Regions from separate parts of the Homo sapiens genome. Here all the other regions are reported to be linked to region 4. Evidence: microRNA targets listed by miRTarBase, many of them from high-throughput screens and not tested one by one. Region 4 holds a microRNA gene; each other region holds the end of a gene's coding sequence.

Region 1 (5,240 bases), not on the chromosome of region 4:
TGTCAAGGCAGAGATTCCTGAAGAAGAATTGGATCAATGGACAATAAAGGAAAGATTCAGTAGCAGTAGTCACTGGAAGTGTGCTAGCCTGCTGGAGTGGCAATGTGGAGGCCAGGAGATCAGTTTGCAGCGAGTGGTACTCACTCACCCCAACACCCCATCACAGGAATGTGATGAATCCGGGAGCACTATGAGCTCATCTCTTCACAGTGATCAAAGTCAGGGATTTCAACCTAGCAAAAATGCCTTTGAGTGTAGTGAGTGTGGAAAAGTCTTCTCTAAGAGTTCAACTCTTAATAAACATCAGAAAATTCATAATGAAAAAAATGCAAATCAGAAAATTCATATTAAGGAGAAAAGATATGAATGTAGAGAATGTGGGAAAGCCTTTCACCAGAGTACGCACCTTATCCATCACCAAAGAATTCACACTGGCGAGAAACCCTATGAATGTAAGGAATGTGGCAAGGCCTTCTCAGTGAGCTCCTCACTTACGTACCATCAGAAAATTCATACTGGAGAGAAGCCTTTTGAATGCAACTTATGTGGAAAAGCTTTTATCCGAAATATACACCTTGCCCATCATCATAGAATACATACTGGAGAGAAACCTTTTAAATGTAACATTTGTGAAAAAGCCTTTGTGTGCAGGGCACACCTTACCAAACACCAGAATATCCACAGTGGAGAGAAACCCTATAAATGCAATGAATGTGGAAAAGCCTTTAATCAGAGTACAAGTTTCCTTCAGCATCAGAGAATTCACACTGGAGAGAAACCCTTTGAATGTAATGAATGTGGGAAGGCCTTCAGGGTGAACTCTTCCCTTACTGAACATCAGAGAATTCATACTGGAGAGAAACCTTATAAATGTAATGAATGTGGGAAAGCTTTCAGGGATAATTCATCCTTTGCACGACATCGGAAAATTCACACTGGAGAGAAACCTTACAGATGTGGCTTGTGTGAGAAAGCCTTTCGGGACCAATCAGCACTAGCCCAACATCAGAGAATTCATACTGGGGAAAAACCTTATACATGTAACATATGTGAAAAAGCCTTCAGTGACCATTCAGCCCTTACCCAACATAAGAGAATTCATACTAGGGAAAAACCTTACAAATGTAAAATCTGTGAGAAAGCCTTTATCCGAAGCACTCACCTGACTCAACATCAGAGGATTCACACAGGAGAGAAACCCTATAAATGTAATAAATGTGGGAAAGCTTTTAACCAGACTGCAAACCTCATTCAGCATCAGAGACATCATATTGGAGAGAAGTGATATGAATGCAGTTTGTATGGAAGACCTTTGAGACTGAGTAGATGAATTATTGAATGTGAGATAATCCGTTCTAGAGAATAACTATGAAAGCTTGCATCAAGATAGTCACTTTATTTACTGAGGGTCAGGTTTCACAGTGTCATGGGGTTTGGGCATTTAAGAATGGCAAACACTCGGCTGGGCACAGTGGCTCACGTCTGTAATCTTTGGGAGCACTTTGGGAGGCCGAGGTGGGCGGATCACGAGGTCAGGAGATCGAGACCATCCTGGCTAACAGGGTGAAACCCCATCGCTACTAAAAATATAAAAAATTACCCGGGCATGGTGGTGGGCGCCTGTAGTCCCAGCTACTCGGGAGGCTGAGGCAGGAGAATGGCATGAACCCGGGAGGCAGAGGTTGCAGTGAGCCGAGATCGTGCCACTGCACTCCAGCCTGGGCGACAGAGCAAGACTCAGTCTCAAAAAAAAAAAAAAAAAAAAGAATGGCAAACACTCCTCATTCTTTAATACTGCCTCAAATAGCAGTACTGTTTGATTTGTCTGAATTACCAAGCATCAGAACCAAAATGGAGCTTCATTAACAGCATTAAAAAATTGGTTTATCAAATTACATTTTGACTATTAGAGAAACTGAAATTGTAAAAATTAAAGCTGAAAAGCAAAGGAACAAAAAGGTAAAATGGCCTACGAGCGTTGCACTCTACTAGATTCTCTTACATAAGAGAGTTGCCAGCTTTAATGGAAGCCTTAGTCCTCTCCTCACCCACACCACCGACACCCAGTGTAGAGAAAGTACGTCACCCACACTTATTTAAACCATGCTTCCTGCCTTTTGCTTCAAACCATCCATTGTCAGATCTCTCTGGTCTGTCTGCTGGCTTCATCCCTGTAGAATCCCTGTGAGACGATTCATTTGCCCCAAATGACCCTCTTCTGACTTAGCAACGCCTAACTGTCTGCATGGTGCCACCTATCACTGCCCCTATGGGGAGTGTGGTGGTCTGGTCTCAGACACAGTCCATGATGTTGAATATCACACCCAAATCCAGCCTTCAGAACTTGGTATCTCTGTCCAGAAGGCACAACTTGATCAAAATTCTTGAGTTATGCATTTCCTCTGGGCTTCAGCTTGACTGATCCTGGGATGGCACCTGAAGGAGGGGCTTTGCCTGTGCCGCCTTTACCCTCCAATTGTTCTGTACTTAGTGACTCTACACATCAGTCAGGGACTTGCTCAGCTTCAGGTGCAATGATCCCACCCACTTACGTTGTACTATTCCCAGTCACCTCCATCTGTCGCTGCCCATTTCTCTATGTGCAATTGATATAAGAGGTGAAAGCCCCAAGGCCAGTTCTCAGAATGCTCTGACCCACTCTCTTCCCCTGGCTGTACAGTCCACTGTGTCCACTGCATTAGAGTACATTTACTACTCCCAGGATAAACTGCTGCATCCTGGTCCTTCCCCTGCTTTTTCTAGGTTTCTGGAGGTAGTAATTCTATATTCATAGGAAAGCAGACAGCTTTGAATTTCTGCTTTTGCATTTGGAAGTGGTCATTTCCTCTCCTCCATCTGGGCCTTCCACTATTTAAAGACTCATGCTGACAGTGGTGAGAAAAATGTTGAGTAATTCCATGAGTCAAGAAGTGGTCACTAGCACCATTGATATTCTCTGGCAAGGGCCATGTCCGTGTTCAAAAGTTTGAGTGGTACAGTCGTCCTGCAAGTATGGTTCCTTTACCCTGTTTTTTTTTTTTCTTTTTCTTTTTCTTTTTTTTTTTTTTTGAGACAGAGTCTTGCACTGTCGCCCAGGCTGGAGTGCAGTGGTGTGATCTCGGCTCACTGTAACTTCCACCTCCTGGGTTCAAGTGATTCTCCTGCCTCAGCCTCCCGAGTAGCTAGGTCTACAGGCACCCACTACCATGCCCAGCTAATTTTTTGTATTTTTAGTAGAGTTGGGGTTTCACTATGTTGGCCAGGCTGGTCTCAAACTCCTGACCTTGTGATCCGCCCACCTCGGCCTCCCCAGGTGCTGGGATTACAGGCATGAGCCACCGCACCCGGCCACCTTCCCCGTCTTTAATCCTTCAGTGCTTTCAGTAGAAATCACACAGATAAGTAACATCTGTGCATCACACACACACACACACACACACACACACACACACAGCCTCTGAGGGCCCTCTCCCTTTTCCTACCACAAGGAATGGAGGAGCCTTCACTACTGCAAGCTGGAATATATCATGCAGTGAAGATGGGAGGCCAAGCAAATTTTTCTGGAAAGTGAAGTGGCAAGTTCCTGGTATGTGGAAGTGCTGTCCGTCAAGTTGAGCAACCCCCTGACCCCTCAGAATGGAGCACCTCACCCCCATGTTACAGAAGAGGATATTCTATATCATGGTAGAACTCAGTGGGCTCTGGGTTGCAACATAGACTTGGAAGCTTCCAGCAGCTTCAAAGTCCAAGTAATCTAAATTCAGCCTTCATCTAATAAAGGCCACCTTTGTGGGCCAGCATCTCCTGTTAGCTGATCAGCAACTCAGACTTTCTTCCCTATTAAGCTGCATGTGAAGCAGTATTTCAAGAGGTTTCTTGGGATTGCTTGTGTCCCATGTCCTCAGAAGTTCATCTGCAGCTTCACGCAGCTGACACCCTCAGATTCCAGAGTAAACCTGAAAAAACCACGTTCACTGCTACAGATGTCTGTCTTCACCCCATCCATGTAATGTGCCAGGTCTTAACTACCACCCCCTTACCTTGAATCCCTGAGAAGCACGTTTCTAAGCTGAGTTGGTTGGTGGTTTTGTCTATCTGTAATGAACGCATGAGAACTACCACTACTTGGTATGTGCCTACCGTTGAGCCAGGACCAAGGCGTGCAGCCACTTGAGTCTCATTCACCTCAGCCGCGGCTCCAGGAACTAGCGTCAGCGGCATTAAGTGCAGGCTGAAGGCCCCCATCTGAGAAGACAGTGCACTCTCCCTGAGTTCGCCTCTCATCAGGCTTGGGTTTTCATGAAATCAGTCCTCCGAGATGCCTGTTCACTCATCCCTGTCTGGAAAGGCAAAAAGTACGTCACTGGCCTATTAGATACGCCCAGGCTGACTTGAATATATTGATGGTACTAGTACTTGGCCAGGCAGTGGCTTTACTGTATTACACTGTAGGATGACGAGCTCACTGCACGGCCTTCTCGACTAGGGGAGGGGACACTGCCTGAGTCCCAGGCATACTTTTCTCACGTGGATGATACTGCTCTCTACCTGGGCATTCTCACCTGCCCCAGCTCAACCCCTAAAAGTACATTTCTGAGGACCCTGCAGTAAGACTTTTTCAGCCACAGTCTTCTCTACCAGCTGATCTGTGTGGTGTTAGACATTTCAGTACTTACTGAGAGGGAGTTTTCTGTGCCCCACCTTCAGCTGGGTTAATCCCCAAAGAACCAGTGTTTCCTAGAAAGAGCAGTTCATTCCATACCTTGCTCTTGTAGTCCTAATGGCCATGTCGACATACCCAGCTGTGACAAGATGAAGGACCACGATTTGGGACTCTTCAGGGACAGACTTGGCCACCTGGTGATGTGCCACCTTCAGCAGCTCTGTCTTCACACGTCCAGCCTGCGCCTGCTTCATGTAGTACACAAGACTGCTCTGGTACACCACGACCATGACCTTCACATGAGGCCAGTCTCCCCGCCCCTCACCTGGGCCATAGAAAAAGGTAAGAGCCTGAGAAGCAGCTCCTGGCCTCTCCTCCCACCTCGGAGCGTTCCGAGACCCATCACAGTGCCAGCTCCACTCTGCCCAGTTTGAGAAGGGAATTGGCATCTAGACTGATAGGTTCTTCATTTCTATGGGCTTCTGGGAACAGCCACTGAAACTGCCTCCTTGTTACCGAAAAAAAACAGTTGCTTTGGATTTCCCCTTTCAGATTCCTCTGCCCGTCTCCTGCCGGG
Region 2 (5,240 bases), not on the chromosome of region 4:
CAGGTGCTCCTCCTACAGGTGTTTCCATGCCTGGATGATCTTCCTCCAGCTACTCCCCTAATTGAAGTGTTCCTCCTCTAGGTGTCCCCAGCCCTGGGTGATAATTTCCTGATTCAGGTGATCCTCATTTGGATACTCCCTGGCTTGAGCCTCCCTGTGGGGGCAGAGTGTGGGCCTCCTTTGAGTAGAGGTGAAAGGACAGGGGTTTGCTTGAAGGGCTGAGGGTAGAGGTGGGCAGCAGCGGCTTTCAACTTAGAAGGGCCAGGGCTGCTCTGGCTGTGTCCAGGGCCCCTGTCCTCAGTAGCAACTTGCATCACCCTCCCCATATGTGGTCTCCGCTTTGGCTGGGTAGCTCCAAGCAATTGCTGTTTTCTGACCTTCGGGAGCCAGGACCCACCTCTGCCCCTGTCTCCCATCCTCAGCTTACCAAGCAGTGCAACAGACTGGGCTCTGGGTTCGAATCTGAAGACTTTAGTTGAGTCAGTTCACCTTTTTCAGCCTCAGAGCCCTCATCTATAAAGTGGGGATAATGTTTATACTTACCTTACTGGGTTTTGTGAGCATGATGCCTGGTGCTTGAATTATAAGGAATGCTCAGTAAGTTCTACAATTTATTTTTTTTTTAGCAGCTTCCAGAGCCAAACCCTGTGATGGTCCCTTACAAATAGCCAGTTTCTGTAGGCTCAGCTTGTTTCTCTTCTGTGGAGAGCTGGTGTGGTCAGTTGTCCAGTCCCCAGAGTTTGTGCAGGGCTACCATGGCTGTGAGTGTGACCTGGAAAGTGCACCCTGTGACCATCCCTGACACCCATACCTATGTTATTTTCTAGGACTTGTGCCCTGGGGCTGCCTGGCATCTGGGGGCCTCCTCAGAGCCAGGGCTCTTTCTGGTTGAGGCTGAGACTCACTGGTGTCATCAGGCCCCTCCATGAATGAGACAAACAAAAGTGAGTGACAGTGGGAGGATGATGGGGGTGGGGGGCTTCCCCTTAGATGCTGGGGTTGGGGGAAGGACCCTACCTGCACTGCTCTTGGTTTCTCCAGGGAGCCCCCTCTGGGGCCCACCTATAATGCTGTCCCTTTCTCTGCAGCACTTGTTGGGCCTTCGGAGCTCCCCACAGCGTCTGCTGTGGCCCCTGGCCCAGGCACTGGGGCTCGGGCATGGCCTGTGCTGGTAGGATTTGTGCTGGGGGCTGTGGTCCTCTCGCTCCTCATTGCACTTGCTGCCAAATGCCACCTCTGCCGCCGATACCATGCCAGCTACCGGCACCGCCCACTGCCTGAGACAGGAAGGGGAGGCCGCCCACAGGTGGCTGAAGATGAGGATGATGATGGCTTCATCGAGGACAATTACATTCAGCCTGGGACTGGCGAGCTGGGGACAGAGGGTAGCAGGGACCACTTCTCCCTCTGAGCTCCCATCTTTAGACCCTCCCCACTCCCTCCATGCCTGACAGCTTAAGGACAGTGGTTATGACATGGGGGCCTTGAACCTCAGGGACAGAGGTGGCTGGGGCTTAAAGGTTGGCCAGGGATGGAGTAAACCCCACTTCCCTGACACTAGCCAGCAAAGTGACAATGACCCTCTCTTGCTCAATAACTCTCAACTGTTCCCTGCTGTTCTCAGGATAAAGCCAAACAAAGGCTTGAGTGTGGACATAAGGCCCTCTGTGATCATGCCTCTCGGCCTCTTGGTTTCTTTTCTTGCCTTCCCCTACTTTACTGTCGAAATCAATGTTATTCTCCCTCCCACCACTTCCCATGCAGTTTCCCCAGGCACCTTTGCTCACATTGGTCCCCCTGCCTACGCTACTCTTCTCCTAAATCCTCTATGACTGTGATGGCCTGCCTACCTGCCAGCATTTCAAATATGCCCAGATGGTAACATTTGTGCAGGTGAAAACCAGTGCCAAGCTTCCTTTTTTTTTTTTTCCTGAGACGGAGTCTCACTCTGTTGCCCAGGCTGGAGTGCAATGGCACATCTTGGCTCACTGCAACCTCCGCCTCCTGGGTTCAAGCGATTCTCCTGCTTCAGCCTCCTGAGTAGCTGGGATTACAGGCATCCGCCACCACGCCCAGCTAATTTTTATATTTTTAGTAGAGACGAGGTTTCGCCATATTGGCCAGGATGGTCTCGAACTCTTGACCTCAGGTAGTCCGCCTTCCTCGGCCTCCCAAAGTGCTGGGATTACAGGCGTGAGCCACCATGCCCGGCCAGCTTCTTAATGAAATATTTTCCTATAAATAAAGTGGGTAATCCGGTTATAATATGTTTTTCACAGGAATTAATAAATCTATTTTCATTTTGAATAAAAATAAAAAGCTGTCACTCATTTTTATTTTTCTTGAGCTGGGCTTTATCACTCAGAGCTAGAAGACACTGCTCAGATGCTCCCCCCTCCAAGACACCTTCCATGAGCCCTTCTCTAGTACTGTCCTGCCCACATTTTGTTTTCATCTTTTTGTTTGTTTTCAGGCGGAGTCTTGCTCTTGTTGCCCAGGCTGGAGTGCAATGGCGCAATCTCAGCTCACTGCAAACTCCGCCTCCCGGGTTCAAACAATTCTCCTACCTCAGCCTCCTGAGCAGCTGGGATTACAGGCACCCACCACCACCACACCCAGCTAATTTTTGTATTTTTAGTAGAGATGGGGTTTTGCCATACTGGCCAGGCTGGTCTCAAACTGCTGACCTCAGGTGATCCACCCTCCTCAGCCTCCCAAAGTGCTAGGATTACAGGTGTGAGCCACCACACCTGGCCATCTTTTTTTTTTTTTTTTTTTTTTTTTTTTGACACAGGGTCTCTCTCTGTCACCCAAGCTGCAGTATGGTGGGGCTATCACAGCTCACTTTAGCCTCGATCTCCTGTGCTTAAGTGATCCTCCCATCTCAGCCTCCCAAGTAGCTGGGAATACATGCATGTGCCACTGCGCATGGCTAATTATTTTTTGTAGAGATGGGGTCTCACTGTATCACCCAGGCTTGTCTCGAACTCCTAGACTTTAGTGATCCTCCCACCTCTGCCTCCCAAAGTGCTGGGATTTACAGGCTTATTTTAATCTTTATGACGGTTCGTACTTGCCTCTTACTATGCCTGCCCCCATAGCTAAACTGGGAGCTCCCTGAGGCCCCAGATTGTGTCTTATTGTGTATCCTCAGATTCTTGCACAAGGGAGCTAGTTTTAAGATGGAAAAGACTTGAGTTAAGCTGTTTTTAATTGCAAGCAATAGAAAGGAGTTTGGGGGAGAGTCCTGGCTGTTGCATAGAATCAAAGGGACAGCAGGAAGCAGGCGGTCCCAGCAGCCAGAGGTCAGGCATTTCACCCCTAGCATCCTGTCGTTTAGGGGCACTGATGGGACTCTCTATAACCAGGACTTCCAAACTCTCAGTTCCAAGTTTCAAGTGCTCAGAAAAGAGAATCAATTTGGCCCAGTTTGGGTCAAGTATACATAGGCTTAAAGCACAATCTGCTATGAGTGGGGGGCATGGTTTGGGGAGCCCATCTGTTTGTTCCAGATCATTCTCAGACAAGGGGCAGTTCTCATGAGCCAGGCAGCCACCCCCATGTGTTCCCCAAGTACAGTGTCAGCCTTTGAGGAATGAGCTGGTACAGAAGGAAAGTGAGGCATTGGCAAATGTAGTGAGGTGCTTGGGAAAGAGGCAGGAGATTGAAGAGGACTTGAGTGTCGTATCTGAGGGGTGCCCATGGCAGTGAGGAAGCCCAAGAGTGGATCTGTTAGGGCCTTGGATGCCAAGCTCACACTTCAACCTGAGAGCAATGGAAGCTCATCTGTGGACTTTTTTTGTGCAAGGGCATGACATAATCATGATAGAAAAGTCATTCTGGCTGCTGTGCAGAGATGGATTGGAGGGGAGACACCGAGAGAAGGTAATAAGACCTGTCTAAGGTGTGACATAGGAACAGACTTTGAGACAAGAGGGAGGAAGAGCTGATAGGACCTGTTGACTTTGGATATGGGGAGTAGGTAGGTATCAGAAAAACGCACCCTGGCTTCTGGCTTGGTTACTGGGTACATTGACGAAGAGCAGGTTGGGGCAATGGGGATTCAATGTTGGATACAGGATTTCCAGGGGAGATGCCTCGGGGCTGCTGGGTTCACAGGGAGAAGTCTAGTCTGCAGACACGGGCTTGGGAACACTTGGCACCAGGGTCATTGAGAGCAGGAATGGATGAGATCGCCAGAGAGGAGCGGAGCGGGAAACACATCTCAAGACTGTCAGCGGACCAAGCCCTGGCAGGGGAGTTGGAGGAAGCAGAGAGGAGGGAAGCCCAGCTCACATGACCCCCAACCTGGCCATGGTTCCTGAGTCCAGAGATGGTCTGCCCCTCACAGGCCTGGGGAGAGCAGAGGCTGCCCCAGCCTGAGACCCTGGAGGAGGACCCCAGAGGCTGACCTAAGGGGCATGTCCTGGCCTACCAGGAAAAGCTGCTGCCCAGGCAGCTGAGCCTGCCCCCTGCCCCTGGGCTCCTTCAATTCCCACCACAGAGGAGCTGCCCTGCGTGCAGTTCTATGCTTGGCTGTCCCTGTTCTCCTGTACTCTTTGGGGCCTCAGTCAGAACCTCTGATGGACCCAGGAGAAGAAGGTAAGGGCCTGATCCCAGACTCGCAGTTGATTTTGCTGAGCCTGTGCCCCACAGGGTGCCCGAGCTGGGGCTTCCCCTCAGAACCAGCTGTGGGTGGCAAGCCTGGCTGAGGAGGGCCCTGTAGTCACAAGAACCTTGGACCCTGTCCTTCAAGGCCTTGATTCCTTGGAGGAATTTCTTCCCACTGTGGTTTGCATGCCTGACCCCAAGTGCAAAGAGGGAGCATGACCTGAGCCCACAGCCGCAAAGGGCTGGGGGTGTTGGGAGCTTGGGATTCAGCCAGGCCCTCTCTGGTTTGGCGTCTTCTGGCTTCGGGTCCTGGCCCCGCCTGCCTCTGCCCCTGGCCCTGCACCTTGTCCTCCACTCCTTGGCAGCTGCCACTACCTACTCTGCCTTGGGAATCCCAACCCAGCTACCCACTGTCTCATCCTGCTGCCTCAAAGGCAAGGCTACATCCCTTGCACTGTGTGGAGGCCAAAGATGGAGTCACACAAAGCCACCAACATGACGTTTAAGAAACTCCAGCAGTAAGCCGGGTGAAGTGGCTCACGCCTGTAATCGCAGCACTTTGAGAGGCCGAGGCAGGTGGATCACGAGGTCAGGAGATCGAGACCATCCTGGCTAACACGGTGAAACCC
Region 3 (5,240 bases), not on the chromosome of region 4:
TCAAACCACCACAGCCGCCTGCCAGGATGGACTCGCTGCTCATTGCAGGTATTGTTGCCCAGTGCAAAACCTGGCTGGTTTTGTTCGTTTCTTAGGAAGCAGAAGACAGTGAGAAATTTACAAACAGAAAAGCATGCCGTAAAAGCTAGTATGTTTGAAATAGTTGCAGGATGAATTTGAATCTAGCACCTGTAATATCTGAAATCTAAGAACTTGTAAGAGTTTGTTCTTTTGTCCAGGTCCTTTCAGTGCTTCACTCTGTGTTTCTAAACATTTTTGAGATGGCATAAACTTTCTAAAATGAGTCCTTTTTCATGGAAACCCAGAAAAATTGTTTACAGTCTTAATGCAGAAGACCACTTAGCTCAGGCCTCTTACTCTTCCTTTTCCAGCACAGCACTGTACAGTGGGTACTTGACTTGAATTTAGGAAATTATTTCCCTTACTTGGACTTAAATTGTGGCAGCACAAATGTATTTCCGGATAAACTTTTTCTGGTTATACTTAATGTTTAATACCACCTTTAAGCAGGAGAGGTCCTGTGTCCTGTACTAGGACTTGATTTTGAATATATGACATTCATGCCCTTATTTGGCTATAATCTTATAGAAATGTTAAATGCCATCTGATTCAGTCAGATCCTTACCTGTGAGAAGATTTTATCAAAGTGAAAATCCTACTCAAAAGCTGATTGGCAATTTCTCAAATTATATTGATACATTTGTAATGTGGGAGGAAATTCCAAATTCCTTAACATTTTCTAGTGTACATACAAATTAAATTTGGAAATGAGACACAATTCCTTCCCAAAGGTCCAATTCAAACAGAATTGAGATCCTTATATTTTGAAGAAGTATGTAACTGATGTAACTGTTGCATGGGATTAGATCATTAAAGACATAAAAAGCAATGATGGAGCCCTTTCTTCAAGTGAACTCTTTACTCTTACTCTGTCTGGCTCGTAGGAGAAAACTCCTTAACGTTCCCAAAGCACAAACTGAAAACCTACCGTACTTGTTCACATCTGGGTCCAGTGGGTCTGGCTGGTTTGCAGCTCTGTGATTTATTGTTAGTATCTCCTTTCTACCTGTGAAGGCTAGTCAGCGCTGTTTTCTCAGTTGTACAGCATTGGTTTGATCTATTTAGTCAGTCCTTTTGACTGACAGCTATTATGTCCTTAGGGCTGATAAGCTTTTGAGGAGTAGTTTTTCTTTATTCTCCATGTAATTGAGAGTGGACAGTAGCTTATTTTCAAAAGAACTTGTATTTCTTATCCCTTATGGAAAAATAAACTCTGGATTCAAAACAATAAACAGGTGATTCTGTTTTATGCTGATTTTTCTGTTTGACTAGCTTTCTGGATCATTTTACAATTTGTGGAACATTATGGCTCTATCTCTTTCTCAAATGCACAGGCCAGATAAACACTTACTGCCAGAACATCAAGGAGTTCACTGCCCAAAACTTAGGCAAGCTCTTCATGGCCCAGGCTCTTCAAGAATACAACAACTAAGAAAAGGAAGTTTCCAGAAAAGAAGTTAACATGAACTCTTGAAGTCACACCAGGGCAACTCTTGGAAGAAATATATTTGCATATTGAAAAGCACAGAGGATTTCTTTAGTGTCATTGCCGATTTTGGCTATAACAGTGTCTTTCTAGCCATAATAAAATAAAACAAAATCTTGACTGCTTGCTCATTTGATTTTAGATGTATTTTCTCTGGCTTACTTTTGTTTGCTTATACTTGTTTATTTCTAAAAGCTAAAACAAGCCCTGACCGGAAGTTTCACCAGGCAGAAACCTATAGGCTCCACCACTTTTGCTGCCTCTCAGGTGCCACCTTTCAACCCACTTCTCCCAACTACTTATCCCAGCTCCTGACCCCGAGGCCCTGGCATCTACTGTGAATATTTTTTTTTTGAATTTTTATACTTCGCTGCTCCCAAATGAGCACCCCGAGAGAAGTCCAGGCTTCATGTACTTGCCCAGGAATTCCTTGTCCCCGGACCCGGAATCACTTGGCCTAATTCCGGTCAGTCTGCCTTTTCATTTCTGCAGGTGATGGTCAACCAGTCCCCGTACTCATAGGCCATGGGACACAAGATTATTATTATCATCATTATTTTTAAAGACAGAGTCTCACTTTGTTGCCCAGGCTGGAGTGTAGTGGCACAATCTCAGCTCGCTGCAACCTCCACCTTCTGAGTTCAAGCGATTCTCCCACCTCAGCCTCCCAAGTAGCTGGGACTACAGGCGTGTGCCATCACGCCTGGCTAATTTTTGTATTTTTAGTAGAGATGGGGTTTCACCATGTTGGCCAGGCTGGTCTGCATCTCCTGACCTCAAGTGATTCACCTGCTTCTGTCTCCCAAAGTGCTGGGAATACAGGCATGAGCCACCACTCCTGGACAGGCCACAGAAATTTTAAAGAAAAGAATCATGCCACCACAAGTAAACTTCATTTTGTTTATATTATTTAGGACTTCACATTTGTCTTCCGAAACCATGAAGTATAATTCTGCTAACAGCAAGTGTTGTGAATGAGGAATTAGGAATTAGGAGAATGGTAGTACATTGGGAAAAACATATTTTAGTAATTTTTATATTTTAAAGATAATCACAGATTTTGCTGTTTGTGCATCACCAAAATCAGTGAGATCTGCCAGCTGGTGGGGGTGTGCCTATGAGAATTTTTGATTATGATCCCCTAGGAGGGTTATCAAAAAAGGAGATGGGTGAAAGATCAGGAGAGTCGAGAAATTCATTTTTTGGACAACATTGTTTTGAAGGCACTACTGGGGCTCTGGGATCAGGCAGCCAGATTGAAACCTGGCTCCTCCTTTTCCTAAGTTATTTAACCTCCCTGTGCCTCACTTTTTGTCAACCAGATAAGATAAGAAATGAGAGCAGGTCTGTTACCTCACAAGGTGGCTGTGAGTGTTGAAGACGTTTGTTGGGGGTTTGGGTGAAGCATGCAAACTCTGGTTGGTATGTGGCAGCCACTCAGCCTGTATTTATGATGAGGGAGGCATTCTAGGCACCCCTTCCAGGATGTTGGGTTGTTGGCTGGGTTTTACTTTAAAAAGCTCAGGGCCTAGAACATTCTAGAATCCAAGTACTTGCTCACATATATAATTATTTCTTTAGGATAATCTTTGATATAGACTTACGAGTCAAAGGGTATGTAAAATGTCAGCCCTTTTACCTGTATTGCCAAATTGCCTTCAAAAGTTTCTGCTGTTTTGCCCTCCTACCCATAGTGATAACCTTAAATTGGAGTCAACACAAATTTGAGTGTGACTGTGTTAGACAGAAGGGATATATTAACAGGTAAAACTGGCCATGGCCCCTGCCCTTGTGGAGTATATGCTCTGTTGGTTCATTTCCTCTGCATTCTAATTTTCTAGACTTGGGATCTTATTGTGGAGTTAAACAAAGCACCCTTAAAGTAGCAAGCGAGCAAAATAAAAGCAAGGAAAATCAGTTGGAACATAACTTATGTATTTTTTAGGATTAAGAGTAATTTAACTGAGTCAATTCAATATGTTTTTAAAGGTGTGATTCTTAAATTCTTTATGATTGTTTAGATTTCTATATCTTGGTAACATGAATACACACTTAATGAAAGATTTCAGTAATTTTTGATTTGGGAATTAATCATAGTGGGAAAAACTGTTTAGGAAAACATGTCAGTGGAAATTAACTCGCCACAGTATGTAGTGTTAGGGAATAGCTTCTGTTCGGCATTTGATTTGAGTGCTGTATTCTGACATTTTTCAGGAACAAATACATGTGATTCATCTTCTATAAATATTTGCAGTTTCTTCAAGTTGAAATGAGAAAAGCTCGTAAATTGAGCACCAGGTCTAATAAATCATTCACTTACCCAAGAACAGAAAGACAGGAAAAGCTAGCATGTTAATCTAATGAAAAAATCGAATGTTAAAAAACCAAGAAAGTAGAAGATATTTGACATTAACTTTCTAATCATTGATAATAATCTAATAATCATAACATTATTCTTAAAACCTGAAAGAATGGATTCCTGCTCCCAATGTGTTTTTAATATCAACTTAAACTAAAATAATTTTTTTACCTATTTTTGGAAGCTTGGAAATTGAGATGTAGTTGTCTAATGTTAACCTAATTAAGAGAGCTTGGTGTGATTTCTCATATACAGCATCTAAATATTTAAGTTTTAATGTCTTCTAAAATATTATTACATTCTTCATACTATAGTTTTTTAACATCCTTTAGAAAACTTGTATCAGCTTCACTTTCAAACCATGCTGGCATCGAACTCAGGTGTAGTGGTATCAGAATGTTATGAAATAATTTTTTATTTTCATTATAAACTCCATTTTTACAATAAACACTTCTCAACCAAATTAAGTATGTAATACACTGTCATTTTAAAAAAAAATCTCACTGGGCATCTTTTTCTATGCTAGCTCTGTATTTTTAAAAATTCTCTCTTTTTTTTTTCTAATTTAAGAAGTATTTATCAGATACCTACTATGTCAAGCACTCTTGATGTTCCAAAGCAGACAGGACACAGATTCTGCCTCTGAGCTTATTAATCAGCATATGACCCAAGAAGGGAACATGAAGTCCTACAAGCTGATAGAGTATGAAGTCATAAGTGCCTTGGAGAGTGCTTTGGGCCATGTTAACAGAGGATCCTTCTGCAATTGGGTTGTACAGAAGGGGTGACAGTGGTTAATAGTCATTGTGGTAAAAGGATAAAGATCTGAGTCTATTATTGAAAAGTGGTGACTCCCAAGTTGGAGTCAGAACCTCTTTGGATGGATTGGAAGAGGGGTTCATTTGACTCCAAATTACTGGAGACAGGGAGTGAGAAATAGGAAGCCAGAACTATTGGGAAATTACAGTTTGCTGGAGCAAACTGCTGTGGCCTAGTACTTACTGCCTTGAGACTTCATTTTATATAAATAGACACTTCCCTATAATGCACCTTGAGCCTGTTTGGCTCCACAGCTACTGGCAGAACCTGAAATGGCTTTGCATAAGCCTCAATGGTGATTTTAGGGATATAGTCCGGGTATGCAAGGAATGGTTTCCAAGTGCTATACCCCTGCTCCAATGTGGGGAGTTTGGGCCATTCTGTAGGAGTTCGGTGTTTCCCAGACATTTCTTTGTCTGAGTACTTGCATTCTTATTCTTACAGGCTGTTAAGCCCTCGCGTAGTTGCCATGTGATGAGTTTATTAAAGTCAAAA
Region 4 (4,552 bases):
CCTTAAAAGGACCATCTCCAGTTCCTTGCTTCAAAGTCTCAGCAGGTTAGCTTTGTTCATCAAGGGGCAATCCTCCTGAGTTTTGTCTCCAGAAAGAAAAAGCAATGCCTACTACGTGCACCTTATATTTAACCAAGAGAATTGGGCTGGATTTCTAGAAAACAGCAATGAACTTAGAGCCAAGTGTTCACTCGAGTTCCAGTACAGGGACACACAGTCCCGATGGGAGCATCCAACATCGAGTCTACGATGTTGAAGAATATACATTGTCATGCACACAAACATCCTCCAGGATGGACCACAGGCTTGGTTATAAAAACTCCTCAATAAAATTTGAACAGGAACACACAAATACCAGTGGGGTGTGGTGGCTCACACCTCTAATCCCAGCACTTTAGGAGGCTGAGACAGAGGATCACCTGAGCTTGGGAGGGAGTTTGAGACCAGCGCCTGCAACATGGTGTAAACCCATGTGTATAAAAAATACAAAAGTGAGCCAGATGTGGTTGTGCATGCCTGCAGACACTAATTCAGCAGGATTAGGTGGGAGGTGGAGGTTGCAGTGAGCCGAGATGGCACCACTACACTCCAGCCTGGGCGATAGAGTCAGACCTTGTCTCAAAAATAACCAACCCCTTTGTAGGGACATGGATGAAACTGGAAACCATCATTCTCAGCAAACTATCGCAAGGACAAAAAACCAAACACCGCATGTTCTCACTCATAGGTGGGAACTGAACAATGAGAACACATGGACACAGGAAGGGGAACATCACACACCGGGGACTGTTGTTGGGTGGGGGTAGCGGGGAGGGATAGCATTAGGAGATATACCTAATGCTAAATGATGAGTTAATGGGTGCAGCACACCAGCATGGCACATGTATACATATGTAACTAACCTGCACGTTGTGCACATGTACCCTAGAACTTAAAGTATAATAATAAAATTAAAAATAAATATATAAGTAGGGATACAAAAATATGACAAAAAAAAAACAACCAAACACAGACACATGCAAACAAAAAATACGCAAGGTGATATCAGAGTATTCTCTGTATTTAGAAGAGTATTTTGTGTGTACATGATTATATTATATATGATAAGAATATATAAAATATACATGATATATTTTTGAGACCCTGTCTCAAGGAAAGTTCCATACATCGCATACTCACAGGAAGAATAATTCCTACACAAGTTCTTGCTTTGGTAGTGCACATAAAAAAAATTGGAATGACAGAGATTACCGTGGCTGCTCCACAAAGGTGACACTCAAATTCACGACGGTCCCGTATTTATCTACGTATTTTTATTTGTTTTATTTATTTTTGAGACGGAATCTTGCTCTGTGGCCCAGGCTGGAATGCCATGGCTTCATTACAGCTCACTGAAATCGCCTCCTCCTGGGTTCAAGTGGTTCTCCTGTCTTGGCCTCCCGAGTAGCTGGAATCACAGATGTGCACCACCGCACCCAGCTAATTTTTGTAGTTTTAGTAGAGACAAGGCTTTGCCACGTTGGCCCCGTTGGTCTTGAACTCCTGACCTCAGGTGATCCTCCCGTCTTAGCCTCCTAAAGTGCTGGGATTACAGGCGTGTGCCGCTGTGCCTAGACTATTATTTACTTTGTTGACACTGAGACTCACTCAGTTGCCCAGGCTGGAATGCAGTGGCGCAATCTCAGCTCACTGAAAGCTCAGCCTCCTGGCTTCAAGCGAGTCTCCTGCCTCAGCCTCCCGAGTAGCTGGGATTACAGGTGTGTGCAACCAGGCCTGGCTGATTTTTGTATTTTTAGTATGGACGGGGTTTCACCATGTTGGCCAGGCCGGTCTCGAACAACTGACCTCAGGTGATCCTCCTGTCTCGGCCTCCCAAAGTGCTGGAATTATAGGCAGGAGCCACCATACCTGGACTAGTCCCATCATTAAAATTAGGGGGAAACAAAGATGCCCACACCTAAATAGCGTATCATTTATTGTTTAAGCACATCTCAAATACATTGTTTATCTAAAACACAAGTTTAACTGAGGGCCGGGACGAACCAAAAAATGGTCCTTACTTTCTTCCTGCCTGTGCATGGGTTAATATTTACATGTAGTCCCATCTAACAAGGCCTGGGAGGGGCAGAGGCAGGAGGATCTAAGACCACTTTAGCCAGGGCAGCATAGTGAGACCCCCGTCTCATGCATTTATCTCCTGGTCATGCACCCAAGATTTCAGCTTCATTTCCCCAATACACACTGAAGCCCCATGCACTCCACCTCCGTGCTCTTGCTCATCCCATCTGCAGGGACACTGAGGTCCCCTCAACTCCACCTGACCCCATGTGAGGTTCTATACCAGTGCCAGAAAAATTTCCATAAAGTAAGAGGTGTTGATGGCCACGCACCATGGCTCACGCCTTTGGGAGGCGCGCGGTGGTGGCTCATGCCTGTATTCTCAGCATTTTCGGAGGCCAAGGTGAGTGGCTCACTTGAGGTCAGGGGTTTGAGACCAGCCTGGCCAACATGGTAAGCCCCATCTCTACTGAAAAAAAAAAAAAAAAAAATTCAAAACGTAGCCAGGCGTGGTGGCGGCCACCTGTAGTTTCAGCTACTTCAGAGGCTGAGGCAGGAGAATTGCTTGAACCTGAGAGGCAGAGGTTGGAGTCAGTCGGGATCATGCCACCGCTCTCCAGCTGGGGAAACGAGACTCCATCTCAAAAATAAATAAATGAATAAAAAAGAAAAATACAAATATTAGCCAAGTGTGATGTCGGGCCCCTGCAATCCCAGCTATTCAGGAAGCTGAGGCAGGAGAATAGCTTGAACCCGCGAGGTGGAGATTGCAGTGAGCCAAGATCGTGCCACTGCACTCCAGCCTGGGTCACAGAGGAAGACTGTCCCAAAAAGGACCATATGAGCCCAAGAGACCTAGGTTGGAAGTGCCTCTGTACTCCAGCCTGGGCCACAGAGACCCTGTCTTAGAAAACAAAAACAAAACAGAACCCCAACATCATCCAAGTCTGATAATAAGCATGCAAATATATTACCAACATCAGCATCAACTTCAACACTGCTTTTCCCAAACGGTAACACTCTAAAGGGAAGCACTTTGTTTTTTCTCAGACAACAAACAGAAAGTGCTTCCTCTAGAGGGTCACAGCATGGGATCTTCTTGCTCCAGCACTCTGGGTTTCTTGTTGGAATTTTCCTTGACCAGGTTAAAACGGATACAAAAATAAAAATGCATTTATTGGCCCTGTTTACATGTTTTATGGAATCCAGAACATAAACCCCTGAAAGGACCATCTCCAATTCCTTGCTTCAAAGGCTCAGCAGGTTAGCCTTGTTCATCAAGGGGCGATCGTCCTGAGTTTTGTCCCCAAAGAGAAAAAGGAATACCTACTACTCATACCTTACATTTAGCTAAGAGAATTGGGCTGATGTTGAAGAATATACATTGTCTCACACACAAACATCCTCCAGGATAGACCAGAGTCTAGGCTGACTCTAGAGGACCACGTGAGATTAGGGGCGGTGGCTCACGCCTGTAATCCCAGCACTTTAGGAGGCCAAGGCTGGTGGATCACCTGAGGTCGGGAGTTTGAGACCAGCCTGCCCAACATGGTGAAACCCAGTCTCTATTCAAAACACAAAAATTAGCTGGGTGGGGCAGTAGGCACCTGTAATCCCAGCTACCCAGGAGGCTGCGGCAGGAGAATCGCTTGAACCCAGGAGGTGGAGGTTGCAGTGAGCCTAAATTGCAACACTGCACTCCAGCCTGGACATCAAGAGTGAAACTCCATCTCAACAACAACAACAACAATAAAAATAATAACTAGCAGGACACGATGGCGGGCATCTCTATTCCCAACTATTCGGCAGGCTGAGGTGGGAGAATCGCCGGAAGCTGGGAGGCGGAGTTTCCGGTCAACAGGGATCCTGCCGCTGCACTCCAGCCTGGGAAACGGAATGAGAGCGCATCTCAAAAAATCAAAAATAAAAAGATCACCACTTGAGCCCAAGAGATCTCGGTTGGAGGTGCCACCCACTCCCGCCTGGGCAACAGGGAACCTGTCTTGGAAAAAAACAAACCAAAGAGAACCCCAACATCATGCAAGTCTGATGATAAGCACGCTCTGCAAATGTATTACCAAGATCAGCAGCATCTTCAACGTTGCTTTTCTCAAACAGTAACACTCTAAAGGGATGCACGATCTTTTCTTAGACAACAGACAGTGCTTCCATCTAGAGGGTCACAGCATGAGGTCTTCTTGCTCCAGTACTGTAGGGTTCTTTTTTTTGTTTTTGTTTTTGTTTCTTTTTGACGGAGTCTTGCTCTGTTGCCGAGGCTAGAGTGCAATGGCACGATCTCGGCTCACTGCAAGCTCCGCCTCCTGGGTTCAAGCCATTCTCAAGCCTTAGCCTCCCGGGTAGCTGGGACTACAGGCACCCACCACCACGCCTCGCTAATTTTTTGTATTTTTAAATAGAGATGGGGTTTCACCGTGTTAGCCAGGATGGTCTCGATCTCCTGACCTCGTGATCCACCCGCCTCGGCCTTTCAAAG
Region 5 (5,240 bases), not on the chromosome of region 4:
ACTCTCACCATTTCATCCCATTCTTTATTCCCCAGACCAACTCCAGGCTGATAGGAAAAAAGATGAAAACAGATTCTTCAAAAGCATGAATAAAAATGACATGAAGAGCTGTAAGTGAGAAATGATGGTTGGTTGCTTCTGCCATTTGGGGAAAGTGAGAAAAGGGGAAGAATTGTGTCTCTATGATTACATGAAGGCCAGATATAAGTGAATGCCGATTCCTCAGCCAATTGAGAGAACAGGCATATGGTTGTTTTATTATTTTAAACTCAGGTAACTCACAAAACAGTCACTAATCCCAAACTTTGAAGTATTCAGAAGTAATAGAAAATTACAAATGTATTTCTTCACTCCTAGAGACAGGGAGGAAAAAGTGGGACAAGAAGGAGGCAGCTCCACCTCTGTAGTATTTGCTGCCCCTACAGGGCAGCAGGTTTCGAGGCAAACTCCTCTGGGTGTGAGGTCAGTACAGCTCAGGGGATGGAGACCCACTGTAATAACAGCCTGTGCTAAAGTCATTAGATATGGTTCTGCCACCTAAGACAATAACAGTAGAAGTACCATTTCTTAAAGGACCACTATGTGCGCATCTAATATTTCAAAACCCCACAACTATCCTCCAAGATAGGTGTTATTATCTGCAACTTACAGTGAGGTCCATGTAGCTTCCGGGAGGGGAGGTAAGTTACCCAGGTCATATGATCATTAAGTGAAAGAGAGAGAATTAGAACTCCTTTCTCCAAAGCCAGAAACTACAGAATGCATTCCAAAGCCAGAGAGCAGGATTTAGGGATCCTATTCCACCAGCATTTCTCCACAAAAGGAGCTACCGGTGTTTAGAAAGGCCATCTTTGTTATGCTCCATGACTTTTGCCCTGTTAAATGCTTAGTATCCCAGGCCCCAGAAAGCCCTATAAGCCAGTAGAGAACCACACTCTTGTTGTCACTGAGACAACCTGAAAGGTTTCCACACTTCCCCCTGGGTGGGGAATGGGTCCCACTGAGAACCATTGACTGTTCTGATTGATGATGGCAGGGTGCTTGTTTTTGTTTTTAATTTGCAGCTTCTGGTTATCAAGACCAAATAGGTTTTCTCTCCCCAATTTTTAGGGGGCTTGTTACAGAAAAATAATCATAAAATGAACAAAACCTCAGAGCCCGGGTCATCTTCTGCAGGTAAGAGTCCTGTCTCTGAATACTAAGGGACCTCTAAGTCTACAGGTGGTCAAAATGCTGTATCCACCCAATTCCACTAAATGGAATAAATGAATAAATGAATGAATTCATTTATTCCATTTCCTCAGTTCCTCCCCAAATTACACCTCTGCCAGGAAACAGAGGGCGCTCCGACTTGTTCAGGTGTACTTTCTTGAGTTTCACCTCCATCCCTCCTGCTGTATGTAGAGCTCAGCTGTGCTGTCTGGCAATGGAGGATTGCTGCCGAGGTGCTCCCGCTGACCTCTTTTCTCCTTTCCTTCTCCCGCAAAGGCGGCAGAACTACATCGGGGCCACCAAATCACCACTCTTCAGCCCCATCCCACTCCCTGTTTCGGGCCTCGTCTGCTGGGAAAGTCACTTTTCCAGTATGTCTCCTGGCCTCTTATGATGAGATTTCTGGTCAAGGAGCGAGCTCTCAGGATACGAAGACATTTGACGTTGCGCTGTCCGAGGAGCTCCATGCGGCACTGAGTGAGTGGCTGACAGCGATCCGGGCTTGGTTTTGTGAGGTTCCTTCAAGCTAAGCCAGCTCAGAGAACACGGGGAGCGGTGGTGCTACACGGACTTCGGAGCATAGAGTGGCGCTGAGTGAGTGGCTGAGACCGACCACGGTTCTTGACTTAGTGGAATTGGGTCGAAGGAGTGGAGAATGGGAGGGCTCGGGCTACTGAGAGTGGAGATGGGGGCGGGGGTGGTGGTGAAGAGAGTTGGAGAAGGAATGGACGAATTCTTGAGCAAAAGGAGGGGAAGAGACAATCTCCAGCCACCCGCCCCACGCTTGACTTCTTATCACTTTGGCTGTGGTGCCGCCTAGTGGAAAAAGGAAGTCCCTGCAGCAGTCCCCGCACTCTTTAAGCAGCTGTTTACCGAAGGCACCAGTTCAGCCAGGAGTGAAATCCGGAGAGGAGCAACGCCAGCCTGGGTCACAGTCCATCAAACCCCATGAGCCCGACCACTCTCGCTCTTCCTTACATTCCCACGTCCCCCTTCTCTCCCAACCCCTCATATCAGCAAGGGAAATTAATTAATGAGATTTGATAAATCAGTAGATAGAATGAGGTCCCCATTCTGAAATATTTAGCAGACTGGAACCACCACGCAAGCCTCTGTAGGGGGTGGATGGAGACACTTCTAACTTTAATAAACTGCGACTGAACGTGGAATCCTAGTAAAAGTGTATGTGTGTGTGGCGGGGGATGACTATTCCTCCTTTTGTATTCCAACACTTTCACTCATCCCTGTGTTTGAGGAACTCCACTTTAGAAAATTACTGGCCCTCAGAAAGTCTGAGCCTTGACCCTCTTATACTAGACTCAATTCTTGTCTTAGACATGGGAATTAGGGGCCACGGGAAATGGACAAGGAAGAGATGGTCTCATCTTCGGGTGTTGAAATGATCTCACCACCACCACCAATGAAGAACTTCTCTCTGCGCCCACAGAACAACACATTGTGAAATTTAGGGATTAACTTTGAGGAGGAGGAGGCGGTGCCGGGCCTAAGACTTCTCTGGGGACCACAAAGGCTGTGACTGGGAAGAGAAAGCCTCTCTGGCGGCATCGAGCGGGGCGGGTGGTGGGACGGGGGTATCAGAGGAAGGTAGGGGGTTTGGACAACTTGACCCGGGGTTGGCCACCTCTTTCTCCTCATCTTCACACAGCCCCTGTGACACTGGACGCAGCCTCGGCCCACCCGGATCTCATCCTTTCCCAGGATGAGATAGTGACGCTGAACCTCGCATCCCAGGGCGGTTCGCAGAAGCGGGGCAACCCCCGACGCTTCTACAGGTTCCGCTGAGTGCTGGGCTCGCTGGGCCTTTGCTCCGGCCGCGGCGCCTGGGAGGCGGAGCTCCAACGGCCCGGGGGCGGGGCCTGCGTGCCGGGGCTTGGCCTTGGAGCTGGTTCCCAGGCGGGGCTTCCTGGAGGTGGAGCCCTTGACCGGCTTCGTGGAGCTGCACAGCAGCGGCTCCCAGTGCCAGGCGCTCATCGAGAGCGGTTCCCGGGAGGATCTCCCGATCTGTCCGAACAAAGTGGGCGTCCGCTTGGATTACTAGGGCGGAGAGGTAGTCTTCTACGACGCCACCTCGAGGACCCACATCTACACTTTCCATGCCTCCTTTCCGGGGCAGATCTCCTTTTTCCAGCTTCTGTTTTCCGGCACCCGGATCACCCTGGGTCGCTAGAGTTGTTCTTTGCCTTCCTCTGCATCTCCTCCTCACTCGCTTCTCGCCCCAGTTTGGGATGTGCTGCAGCTGGAAGGGTTGAAGCTAGGCTTCCAGCAGCCCTATGGGAAGGTTACACCCTTCGGGCTTCCTCCTGATCCAGTCCTGATTTCTCTGACCCTGCTTTAAATATTCCTTCTATCTCAGTTCCTCTCTCCTTACAATATGCCTGGGTCGAAAAGAAAGGCTCAAATACACTAAAAGGCTATACACAAGGCTGTTCATTGCAGCACAGTTGGTAACAGGATAAGACTGGAAACGAACGTCTATCAACAGGTGGTTGAAAAAGCTGCCACGTGCAAGCATCCAGCTGCATCTCGGTTAAGACAGACACAGGGGAGTGGACCACTGACCCCAGCTTGTCCGCCTGTCTCCTCCTCCATTTTACCTCCTGCAGCCCCCGTGGACCTGCACAGGGCTTTGACCCATCTGAACCCCATCCTGAAAACCGACATACGCAAAACTTTTCTAGTTCTTCGTAATACTCAGAAACCAAAATTAATCCCACGACCAGATGCATCCTCCTCTCAAACCCACATCACCACTACCCGCAACAAAAGTCTTGATCATTCCTAGTGTTGCCATGTGAGGGACTGAAGTTAAACCCAGAGAAGGACTGCTCCAGTTTCCTGAGTGAGCCCAAAAAAAGTAAAAGGGCGAGGAGGTTGGAAACGCAGAGACGAAATGACCTCTGGACAGTAAAACCCACCATTTGCGCCAGTTTGGGATGATTATGGGTTCCTTCCTCTTCCTCCCTTCAGGCCGGCTGGGGACTGGGTAGGCGGATGGGACCAGGCGTCTCTAGGCTTTTCCTGCCTCCTCGCTCCGGTAGGGAGAGGGCGGTGTTGCAGGAGGCGTGGGGAGTCGCCCGCCAGCCCACGCTGCTGCCCGGCGCGTGGCTGCGCAGCGGGAGGGCGGGCCCAGGTGTCGGGGCGGGAGTGAGCCAACGCCCGGAGCACGGATTCCAGGGGCGCTCAGTCAGCCCTGGCCAGGCTCCCCCATCCACTTCCCCCAGTCGCCCGCGAGGCGCCGCCGATTACATAAACAGCCTTCACCTTCCTGCGGAGGGGACAACAAAGGGCTGGGGACACACAGGCCGAGACCCGAAAGTAACGCCCCTCCGGACTTTTATTCAGAATCAGCCGGGACTGCCCAAATCCCTATTTACAGTTCTCACAGCCCTCGTCATGGTCATGGACTTCGCGCCTTTTACCTTGTTTCCTTTCATTGTGTACAGATTCAACTTCCTTACTACAAAGGGAGATCTTTCCCAAATGTCTTAAGTTGATTTTATACTTCCTGACTCTACCAACCCCAGACACTTAGCACGGACCCTAGAATGGGGTACTTGATTAATAAATATTTACTAAATTAAAACCATGCCCTAATTTCTCTTTTCCCGCGAAAGACTGATGTCTTGGAAATCCCACTCAATTTTCGTGGACCAGCTCCACCTCACCTCCTCCGGGAAGCCTTCCCCAGGCAGGGTTCCTGGTACTTTCTGTTGGAAAAGTGTGCACACTCCCAAAGCCACTACAGCCATCTCCCTGCAGCACTTACCGCAAGTTGACTGTGAAGTCCTCGAGAACAGAAGCAGCATCTCACTCCTTTTCGTTTCACTCTCCCACCCTCCTTGAGCACTACAGGGCCTGGTTCCTAAAGGGATGTAAATGAAGGAAGGGTTCAAAGTAAATGAAAGAATACTTTGTAGCAAGGTTTAAATTTGGGGAGGTCTTCCAACCTGGACCTTAACCTTAAACGATGATCACACTCTTCTCAGCCGTGAGGGATGGGGGTCGCC
Region 6 (3,000 bases), not on the chromosome of region 4:
ATTGACGCACTCTTCAGTTGTGTCAGCTCAGCCCAGCCCCCGCGAATCTTCGTGGCACACAGCAAGTTTGTCATCCTCAGTGCACACAAACTGGTGTTCATTGGAGACACGCTGACACGGCAGGTGACTGCCCAGGACATTCGCAACAAAGTCATGAACTCCAGCAACCAGCTCTGCGAGCAGCTCAAGACCATAGTCATGGCAACCAAGATGGCCGCCCTCCATTACCCCAGCACCACGGCCCTGCAGGAAATGGTGCACCAAGTGACAGACCTTTCTAGAAATGCCCAGCTGTTCAAGCGCTCTTTGCTGGAGATGGCAACGTTCTGAGAAGAAAAAAAAGAGGAAGGGGACTGCGTTAACGGTTACTAAGGAAAACTGGAAATACTGTCTGGTTTTTGTAAATGTTATCTATTTTTGTAGATATTTTATATAAAAATGAAATATTTTAACATTTTATGGGTCAGTCAACTTTCAGAAATTCAGGGAGCTGGAGAGGGAAATCTTTTTTTTTCCCCCTGAGTGGTTCTTATGTATACATAGAAGTATCTGAGACATAAACTGTACAGAAAACTTGTCCACGTGCTTTTGTATGCCCATGTATTCATGTTTGTTTGTAGATGTTTGTCTGATGCATTTCATTAAAAAAAAAACCATGAATTACGAAGCACCTTAGTAAGCACCTTCTAATGCTGCATTTTTTTTGTTGTTGTTAAAAACATACCAGCTGGTTATAATATTGTTCTCCACGTCCTTGTGATGATTCTGAGCCTGGCACTCCCAAATCTGGGAAGCATAGTTTATTTGCAAGTGTTCACCTTCCAAATCATGAGGCATAGCATGACTTATTCTTGTTTGGAAAACTCTTTTCAAAACTGACCATCTTAAACACATGATGGCCAAGTGCCCAAAAGCCCTCTTGCGGAGCAAATTTCAGAATATATATGTGGATCCAAGCTCTGATAGTTCAGGTGCTGGAGGGAAGAGAGACCTGTGTGTTTAGAGGCCAGGACCACAGTTAGGATTGGGTTGTTTCAATACTGAGAGACAGCTACAATAAAAGGAGAGCAATTGCCTCCCTGGGGCTGTTCAATCTTCTGCATTTGTGAGTGGTTCAGTCATGAGGTTTTCCAAAAGATGTTTTTAGAGTTGTAAAAACCATATTTGCAGCAAAGATTTACAAAGGCGTATCAGACTATGATTGTTCACCAAAATAGGGGAATGGTTTGATCCGCCAGTTGCAAGTAGAGGCCTTTCTGACTCTTAATATTCACTTTGGTGCTACTACCCCCATTACCTGAGGGAAACTGGCCAGGTCCTTGATCATGGAACTATAGAGCTACCAGGACATATCCTGCTCTCTAAGGGAATTTATTGCTATCTTGCACCTTCTTTAAAACTCACATATGCAGACCTGACACTCAAGAGTGGCTAGCTACACAGAGTCCATCTAATTTTTGCAACTTCCTGTGGCCAGTGTGTATAACCCCTTCCACTATCTCACAGATAGTCACAGCGTCCATTCCATAGTCTGTCTCCTCACATCTGTTAGTATTGACACAGCACAGACACCACAAGCCATCAGGTTCTTCATGGGGCAGGTGAAATACTTCTACCCCATGGGTAAATGTATTCACATATTACCAAGAGAAGAAGCACATTATCTATGATCTTTTGGCCCAGTTCTTATTTAGCATTTTTATTCCAGCCTACTTGGAAACATGTTTTTATTTGCAATATATGCCTGACTGAATTAAGCTTGCTTGTTTTAAACAACCAAATCATTGGAACAGAAAAGGATTTAAAAAACAAGAATGCATGATCTCAGAGTGATTAAAAAAAAATCAGTGGAAATAAATGATCATAGAAGGTGCTTTTCAAAACAACTGCTATTATAATTCTCAAAGTCCTACTCTGCCAAAAGAAGATTAAAAGTCATACATTACATTACAAGGAAATGTTCATGTGGGAAGAGGGTTGCTGAAAATCAACAACGCTTGAAGTTAAAAAGTGTGTCTTTGTAGATTTCATTGTATAATGTGTATTTCTTAGGAGATGGCTGACTTGATTGATCTACGCTAAGTGGAGACATTTCACATTTTTAAAACCAAATGTTCAATCTGTATTACTCTTTGCCGTCTTGTATGTAGAGGCTATTTTTAAATCATTAAATTTTTAGATCTCTGTTTTCATAGCCACTGGGTTTTCTTTTTCATACTCCTCTGTCACAGAATTAAATATTGGCTTACTTTGGTACTCCTAATATAAAAAGTTAAATTATGATTATTTTAGCAATGCTATAGGTCTGGATTTTTTTAGGAAAATTGAGGGTTTGGTTTTCTCTGTATATGTGTCACTTCCAAGTGTATTTGCATTCAAAGAAAATTCTAGAATCTGTGAACATTATCAAATTCAAATATCTGGAACAAGACTTGTGTTCACCAAAAAACCCATACACTCAGTAACATATAGGATGATTTGTTTTCATAATATGGATGTTACCAGTCATGTGGTTTTTAGAATCAAAGAAAATTTTTCTATTTGTTTTGGAATAGTCATAAAGAAATAATTTAAAGCAAACTATATTTAATGAAAATAAGAGATTTGTAATCATGTAATTATCATTTTTAATGGTTGGCCCACTCTTTTATTCAGGTATCCCACTGAGATTTACAGACAAATTATTTAAATGTATCATGTACCATTTTGCCCACACATATAAGCATTAATTTATTTTTGACAAAATGTCAAGGCACTTCAAGGAGGGAATGAAAACTCTTCCGAAAAAAAAAGTGGTGCGGGAACAACTAGATCTATGAAATAAAATGAATGTGTACCTTACGTTCTACCCAAAGATTAACCCAAATGGATCATAGACCTAAATGTAAAACTTAAAACTCCTAGAAGAAAACACAGGAGAAAATCTTTGTTATCTTAGGTAGACAAAATTTCCATATTTGAAACACTTTAAAAACTTAACTCAGAAAAAAAATGATTTAT

The links. Region 4 holds the annotated microRNA hsa-miR-520g-3p (ACAAAGUGCUUCCCUUUAGAGUGU, at 3,075-3,098, opposite strand). A microRNA usually pairs through its seed, bases 2 to 8, with sites in the 3' UTR of a target mRNA and lowers its output. Matches are read on the target gene's strand: a 7mer-m8 pairs with bases 2 to 8, a 7mer-A1 pairs with bases 2 to 7 and ends in A, and an 8mer does both.
Region 1: the mRNA of ZNF454 is a reported target of hsa-miR-520g-3p. Seed matches in the 3' UTR shown: 7mer-m8 at 1,499-1,505.
Region 2: the mRNA of C1orf210 is a reported target of hsa-miR-520g-3p. The part of its 3' UTR that is shown has no 7-base or 8-base seed match.
Region 3: miRTarBase lists EIF3H as a target of hsa-miR-520g-3p. Seed matches in the 3' UTR shown: 7mer-m8 at 2,142-2,148.
Region 5: the mRNA of TRIM31 is a reported target of hsa-miR-520g-3p. Seed matches in the 3' UTR shown: 7mer-m8 at 2,009-2,015.
Region 6: the mRNA of NEDD9 is a reported target of hsa-miR-520g-3p. Seed matches in the 3' UTR shown: 7mer-m8 at 1,272-1,278.

Annotation. Positions count from the first base shown.
Region 1 is chr5:178,964,689-178,969,928 of GRCh38, forward strand. It overlaps ZNF454 (zinc finger protein 454), which reads left to right. Exons shown (of 5, transcript NM_001178089.3): 5 at 1-1,745. The coding sequence ends at 1,285. Among named protein-coding and RNA genes, the nearest start is that of ZNF454, 26 kb to the left of the region's middle.
Region 2 is chr1:43,278,956-43,284,195 of GRCh38, reverse strand. C1orf210 (chromosome 1 open reading frame 210) reads left to right here. Exons shown (of 3, transcript NM_182517.3): 2 at 828-944; 3 at 1,089-2,319. The coding sequence starts at 926. The coding sequence ends at 1,411. Among named protein-coding and RNA genes, the nearest start is that of C1orf210, 4.0 kb to the left of the region's middle.
Region 3 is chr8:116,641,279-116,646,518 of GRCh38, reverse strand. It overlaps EIF3H (eukaryotic translation initiation factor 3 subunit H), which reads left to right. Exons shown (of 8, transcript NM_003756.3): 7 at 1-48; 8 at 1,416-4,389. The coding sequence ends at 1,513. Among named protein-coding and RNA genes, the nearest start is that of EIF3H, 110 kb to the left of the region's middle.
Region 4 is chr19:53,720,766-53,725,317 of GRCh38, reverse strand. It overlaps MIR520G (microRNA 520g), which reads right to left and starts at 3,152; the gene lies at 3,063-3,152. MIR517B (microRNA 517b) reads right to left here and starts at 4,242; the gene lies at 4,176-4,242.
Region 5 is chr6:30,100,038-30,105,277 of GRCh38, reverse strand. It overlaps TRIM31 (tripartite motif containing 31), which reads left to right. Exons shown (of 9, transcript NM_007028.5): 7 at 36-110; 8 at 1,111-1,176; 9 at 1,489-2,381. The coding sequence ends at 1,742. TRIM31-AS1 (TRIM31 antisense RNA 1) reads right to left here and starts at 38. Exons shown (of 4, transcript NR_126470.1): 1 at 1-38. RefSeq lists enhancers at 2,363-2,862, 4,350-4,859.
Region 6 is chr6:11,182,492-11,185,491 of GRCh38, reverse strand. It overlaps NEDD9 (neural precursor cell expressed, developmentally down-regulated 9), which reads left to right. Exons shown (of 7, transcript NM_006403.4): 7 at 1-2,194. The coding sequence ends at 330. Among named protein-coding and RNA genes, the nearest start is that of NEDD9, 49 kb to the left of the region's middle. RefSeq lists an enhancer at 1-468.